Homo sapiens: one gene and its partner. The protein of the gene in region 1 purifies or fractionates together with the protein of each later gene. This does not show direct contact. Each region holds a gene or a part of one and is shown in the gene's direction. Other genes may lie near its edges.

Region 1 (3,500 bases):
CTAGTTTCTTGTTTGTTTGTTTGAGACGGGGCCTCACTCTGTCACCCAGGCTGGAGTGCAGTGACATGATCTTGGCTAACTTCAACCTCTGCCTCCCAGGTTCAAGTGATTCCCCTGCCTCAGCCTCCCGAGTAGCTGGGACTAAAGGCATGCGCCACCATGCCTGGCTAATTTTTATATTTTTGATAGAGACAGGGTTTCACCATGTTTGCTAGGCTGGTCTCAAACTCCTGGCCTCAAGTGATCCACTCACCTTGGCCTCCCACAGTGCTGGGATTATAGGCGTGAGCCACCACGCCGGGCCTAATTCCCTAGTTTCTTAATTTCTCTGAGCCACCTTTCTTGCTATTGATCACTACCTCACAGCCTTACTCTGCTTTTCTAGCCCCTGACAGCTATCTAGGTCTTTTCTTTATCACAATCTAAGGTTGGCATCAGTCTTTATTCCCGTAGAATAGATGGGTTTATGGCTGAAGGTGACGGCTCTGCGGTGTGGAGTGTCAGGAGAGTTGCCAAGAGGGCTGCAAAGACACCAGACGAAGCCTGTGCTGAGCACAGTGGGAGGGGCCTGAGGCTGGTTTCCCCATGTGTTTGAAGGGTGATGTTTCTGAATCTAAAGTAGCTGATAACCAGTTGTCTTGCTCTTCTTCCAGAACTCCATCCGCCACAACCTTTCCCTGCACGACATGTTTGTCCGGGAGACGTCTGCCAATGGCAAGGTCTCCTTCTGGACCATTCACCCCAGTGCCAACCGCTACTTGACATTGGACCAGGTGTTTAAGGTGAATGCCCTGCTTTCCTCTAAATAGGGCCTAAGTTGGAGGTTGTCATAGCCATCTCAAAAGGAAACAAGTTCTGCTAGTGATGCTTTCATTTGATCAGGGGAGAGTTAGAAGCCAGCCACCCAATTAGTGACTTGCACAAAACCCAGTGAATTAAGTACACTTGACAAATACCAAATGACACATTTTTGTGCCAGACCAGAGCAAGGAGAAGGCTGTTCTGACCCAACAGAAAGGGCTCCCCAGGGCAGTGTTTTCCTAACTTCCCTGTGAATGGGAATTGCCTGGGACATTGTTAAAACACAGCTTCCCAGACCCCTCTCTTGGGGCTCTTGATTTAGTGCTTCTGGGATGGGCCCAGGAATTTGTATTTTTAGCAAGCATCTCAGGTGATTCTTACAAGAAATTCTGGGAATGCTTGCTCTAAAAAAAGCCCTTCCTGCTGGGTGTGGTGGCTCACGTCTGTAATCCCAGCACTTTGGGAGGCTGAGGCAGGTGGATCACCTAAGGTCGGGAGTTGGAGACCAGCCTGACCAACATGGAGAAACTCCGTCTCTACTAAAAATACAAAAATTAGCTGGGTGTGGTGGCGCATGCCTGTAATCCCAGCTACTTGGGAGGCTGAGGCAGGAGAATCCCTTGAACCCAGGAGGCGGTGGTTGTGGAGAGCTGAAATCGCACCATTGCACTCCAGCCTGGGCAATAAGAGTGAAAGTCTGTCTCAAAAAAAAAAAAAAAAAAAAAAAAAAGCCTGCCTTAGGCTGGAGACCAGAAGCTGAGCTACCAGAACGTCTTTTCAGAAAGAAGTTATTTTGGTTTTTCAGAGTGCCCATAAGGCTGCTGGTAGCTGTAACCATTCTCCTGGGAGGGGCAGTTGTCTGGGGTGTCTTTTGTCATCAGTCAGGAATAAGTGTTTTTCCCAATCCGGTCAAATTGACCACGTTGGTGGTAACTTCATCTCATTTCTCTCCCACAATGCCTGGCCGCCACCAGCCACTGGACCCAGGGTCTCCACAATTGCCCGAGCACTTGGAATCAGTAAGGTTCTTTCCCTCTGGCTCGGGGCTTGGCCTTGTTTTCCTTTCACTGCTCAGCATGGCTTTAGTGGACAGAGACAAGATGTGATGTGGGGAAGGGTCCCTATGGCCATGTTTTGTCTAGGTGCCAGCCCTAGACACAGAACACCCTGAGGGTCAGGCACACACCCACTTCCCTCCCCTTCCATGGGCATCACAAGGGCACACTGAGCAGAGCAGGGCACAGCAGGGGAGCATGCTGCAGCAGCCACAAGCGCATGGCACCAGCCTCAGGGGCGGCAGTTCGTTCGCTCACTTTTGTGCCTAGCTTTTCTTTGCCACGCATATAGCTACCTGCTCTGGCATCCCCCAGGGGTGTTGAGGACACGTGGGTGAAGCGGTAGTGCCACTCTGCCATCATGTGTCTGTAGGCCACCCACCTGCCCACTCATCACAGTTTTGGAGACTGCTCGCCTACGTCCATCCCCTCAGGTTGGCCTCCTCTCTCTGGGCTGTCATTAACTCAAGCACACACCACCAGAGCAGCTGGTGGGGTTTTGCCATCCCCTCTTTACCTTATTGTGTTAACATAGGTTTCTTTCTCTCCCCATCTGCCACAAGCAGCAGCAGAAACGACCGAATCCAGAGCTCCGCCGGAACATGACCATCAAAACCGAACTCCCCCTGGGCGCACGTTAGTATGGGAGAGTGGGCCTTGGGCCTGGTCCTTGTTCTGGGGCCATATCTTTAGGGAACCAGACTCTGGGATTCTGTTCCCACCTCAAAGGGATCTGAGCCCAGAGAAGGAGAGCAAAGCTCCTGGGGCTGAGAAGGGGTGTACTCCAGTCCCCCTGCTCCTGATCTCTCGTGTTTCCTCCTAGGGCGGAAGATGAAGCCACTGCTACCACGGGTCAGCTCATACCTGGTACCTATCCAGTTCCCGGTGAACCAGTCACTGGTGTTGCAGCCCTCGGTGAAGGTGCCATTGCCCCTGGCGGCTTCCCTCATGAGCTCAGAGCTTGCCCGCCATAGCAAGCGAGTCCGCATTGCCCCCAAGGTGGGTGTCCTATTTTCCTCTGAAGAGAGATTCTGGCCAATTAAGAATGTTGGACCTTCAGCTTGCAAAGCACTCTGATAAGTGTTCCTTGAGAGCTTATAAATCTAGTTGGGTAGAAAAGGCATAAAAACATAGGGAAGTGTAATAGCATTAGAAGAGCTAAAAAGGTATTTGGATTACAATGTAAGTGGTGTCAGAAGGCCCATAAATACCTGATGAGCTTGTAAGAATTCAGACAAAAGTGATTGTGATAGATGGGCTAGGATTATTAAGGAAGATACACAAGGGAGGCAGGCCTTAGAAAGAGATGGATTTGGCCGGGCGCTGTGGCTTACACCTGTAATCCCAGCACTTTGGGAGGCCAAGGCAGGTGGATCATGAGGTCAGGAGTTTGAGACCAGCCTGGCCAACGTGGCGAAACCCCGTCTCTACTAAAAAATACAAAAATTAGCTGGGCTTGGTGGCACATGCCTGTAATCCCAGCTACTTGGGAGGCTGAGGCTGGAGAATCACATGAGCCCAGGAAGGGAAGTTGCAGTGAGCCGAGATCACTGCACTCCAGCCTGGGTGACAGAGCGAGACTCTGTCTCAAAAAAAAAAAAAGAAAAGAAAGAAGTGGATTTGAGGCTAGACGCTGTGGGTCTC
Region 2 (3,500 bases), on another chromosome or scaffold:
TTTTTTTATTTTTAGTAGAGATGGAGTTTCACGATGTTGGCCAGGCTGGTCTCGAACTCCTGACCTCGTGATCTGCCTGCCTCGGCCTTCCAAAGTGCTGGGATTACAAGCGTGAGCCACCATGCCCGACCTTATTTCTTTACTTTGTCTACTAAATTCAGAGTCCTTTGAGGATGCCATGAAGTCAATGCCTTGTAGAGTTTGACTTCAAGAAGGTGCTCAATAAATGTTTGAACAATGGGATAAAGGGAGCTTGAAGGAAATGGTTAATGGCGATGAAGTTAGTTAATCCTTAGTAGTCAGGATAGAATTTGTGTTGAGTAGTGAGAAGCAGTTTATATTATGAAATAAAGACTAAAGACTGAATTGTCATTTATTTGGACTAACTTCACATGTTGCTGATAAAAATTAATTACTTCTCAGTTTCCTTTGCAGCAAAGTCTAGAATGTGAATTTATTTGCTTCCAACTTTAAACTGACTCACTCTAAGTTGGCATTTCACTGTTTTTTTTTTTGCCCAGGCTGGAGTAGAATGGCGCAATCATAGCTCACTGTATCCTCAAACTCCTGGGCTCAAGTGATCCTCCTGCCTGGGCCTCCTGAGTAGTTAGGACTGTAGGCAGCTGCCTTCATGCCCAGCTAATTTTTTGTAGAGATGAGTTATTGCTATATTGCCCAGGCTAGTCTGGAACTCATGGTCTCAAAGGATCCTCCCACCTCAGCCACCCAAAGTACTGGGATTACTGGCTTGAGCTGTTATGCCCAACCTCATTCTTTTTAATTGAGGAATTAAATGATCACTTTTTTCTTTTTTAACAGAGACAGGGTTTTGCTATGTTGCCCAGGCTGGTCTTGAACTCCTAGCCTCAACCTCAGCCTCTCAAAGTGCTGAGATTAAAGGTGTGAGCCACCGCGCCCAACCCAAATGATCACTTTTGATGTTAATCACTTCCTAAAAAGAAATGGAATAAATCTGAAAAGATACTTTTCCTTTAAGGAAATGAATTGTATGCCGATTCAGCAGAATACTAGCTTGAGTTGGTACCAATAACCTGAACTTCATGCCCAAACTATAGTGCTTACTTCTATTTGCTATTTCAAGATATCTCTTTGTTTCAAGGTTGATACTGCCTCTCCAAGCCCAATGGAAACATCTGGATGTGCCCCTGCAGAAGAAGACCTGTGTCAGGCTTTCTCTGATGTAATTCTTGCAGTAAATGATGTGGATGCAGAAGATGGAGCTGATCCAAACCTTTGTAGTGAATATGTGAAAGATATTTATGCTTATCTGAGACAACTTGAGGTAAGTATTATCATTCGTTTTTTTTCTAAACTGCATCTAACTTTATGAAAGTATTTTCCATCAATAGTTTATAATAATACAAGCAGGACGTGGGCAGCATTTCTTAAGAGATCGCACTTTCAAATTCTCCTTCATGGAATACCTATAATAAAAAGTCACTAAATAAACCAATGGAGTCTATTTGTCACTTTGTGCAGGAAAGTTCGAAGTTAGGGTGGATACTACTATCGCTTTCTAAAGGAAAATCCACAGATTGAATTTGATATGTATATATGCGATCTCCACCACGTTTGGAATGGTTAAGTCCCAAACTCTGCATTTTAGGTGATAACGGGTCAGGAAGTGGATGAGGATGTAGAATATACTCAAAGACTACAGCCACCCCTAACACAAGGCATTTTGTGTTAGTGTGGCTGATGTGCATCCAGTTGTTGGTGAAATTATTTGTGCCCAAAAGGAGTACACTCAAAAGCTACTTTTTTGGTTCACTTCAATTTGATCCCACTTTTGAAACTTTCTATTAATGGCATTTGCCCTTTCCCTACAAATACAAGCACTCTTTATGGCAGCATAAACATAGTAACATAAATTATACTGTTACCACATTTACGTAGTTTTTTTGTTGTTGTTGTTTTGTTTTTTTGAGATGGAGTCTCACACTGTCGCCCAGGCTAGAGGGCAGTGGTGCGGTCTCAGCTCACTGCAGTCTCTGTCTCCTGGGTTCAAGCAATTCTCCTGCCTCGGCCTCCCAAGTAGTTGGGGTTGCAGGCACACACCACCATGCCTGGCTAATTTTTTGTATTTTTATTTGGTTTTGGTTTTTTTGAGACAGGGTCTTGCTCTGTTGCCCAGGCTGGAGTGCAGTGGTGCAATCTCGGCTCAGTCCAGCCTCCGCCTCGGGTCAAGTGATTCTCATGCCTCAGCATCCCGAGCAGCTGGGATTACAGGTGCCCACCACAACACCCAGCTAATTTTTGTACTTTTAGTAGAGATGAGGTATCACCATATTGGCCAGGCTGGTCTCGAACTCCTGACCTTAGATGATCTACCCATCCCGGCCTCCCAAAGTGCTGGGATTACAGGCCTGAGCAACCGCACCCAGCCCCCAGTTGTTTCTAATGTGTTGTCTTATGTCATCACTGACATGTTCATCTCTTGCCTGCTCCTTTTTGGCCTCTCCTTTTTCTATAGGATTCTTCTGCAAGACTTCTTTGCCAGGAGCAGCCTTCTGCTTTTAGTTTCTTCTTCCATCTTTCTAGTGCTTTTTAAAGTTGTGTTCTAACTTTGGAGGATTCAATTTAGTAAATGTGCTGTTTCTTTTTTTTTTTTTTTTTTTTTTGGGACAGAGTCTCGCTGTGTCACCTAGGCTGGTGTGCAGTGGCACAATCTCGGCTCACTGCAAGCTCTGTCTCCCGGGTTCACGCCATTCTCCTGCCTCAGCCTCCTGAGTAGCTGGGACTACAGGCATCCGCCACCACGCCTGGCTAATTTTTTATATTTTTAGTAGAGACGGGGTTTCACCGTGTTAGCCAGGATGGTCTCAATCTCCTGACCTCATGATCCACCCGCCTTGGCCTCCCAAAGTGCTGGGATTATAGGTGTGAGCCACCGCGCCCAGCCTGTAAATGTGCTGTTTCTTGATGCTTCGTTCTTGTTCTGTGCAAGGCCATTTATGCAAAGCAACCCCTCAAGTGGCAGAGGAGCTGAGAAACCAAGGAATTAGGCAGATAAATGGAGTTTGCTGGTATTGGGTGACTGATGAGGGGGAATTTACAGACATAAGTATGGTCTTTGATGGCTGTAAGATGTAGATCTCTGCACTGTAACCCCTCGTACCCACGGCTTGGGTATGTATACATTTTCTTGGGCAAAGTATACATGCTCTAGAATCAATGTGTGGGTGGCTGACAGAATGCTGCAGACATCACAGCCTATAATGTATACAATAATATCAAGGGCTGTTTTGGAGGAAAGGCCAAACTTAAAGTGAATAGGCAGAAGTCACATTGAATTAGTATTTAAAATAAAGTCACTGTTGTCCCCACAGTTCTTAGCTATGTTGCTGTTGGGATTTAACCCAGGAGCAGGCAGGAGTGTTGTAGTACATGGGTTCCAGCTGCCCTGGGAGTTACTGATATTTTCTCTACATAAAGCTCAGGTTCTAAGTTTAGAGGCTTAAGTGAAAAGATCTGAGATG

The links.
Region 2: the proteins of FOXM1 (region 1) and CCNB1 purify together in Homo sapiens (affinity purification with western blotting; 4 studies listed by BioGRID, with this or other methods). This does not show direct contact.

The regions. Positions count from the first base shown.
Region 1 is NC_000012.12:2,863,675-2,867,174, reverse strand, and holds part of FOXM1 (forkhead box protein M1), read left to right. Parts: intron 1-653; coding exon 654-782; intron 783-1,775; coding exon 1,776-1,820; intron 1,821-2,229; coding exon of another isoform or gene 2,230-2,290; intron 2,291-2,419; coding exon of another isoform or gene 2,420-2,422; coding exon 2,423-2,492; intron 2,493-2,679; coding exon 2,680-2,855; intron 2,856-3,500. UniProt on the Homo sapiens protein: Transcription factor regulating the expression of cell cycle genes essential for DNA replication and mitosis. Plays a role in the control of cell proliferation. Also plays a role in DNA break repair, participating in the DNA damage checkpoint response.
Region 2 is NC_000005.10:69,170,150-69,173,649, forward strand, and holds part of CCNB1 (G2/mitotic-specific cyclin-B1), read left to right. Parts: intron 1-1,120; coding exon 1,121-1,303; intron 1,304-3,500. UniProt on the Homo sapiens protein: Essential for the control of the cell cycle at the G2/M (mitosis) transition.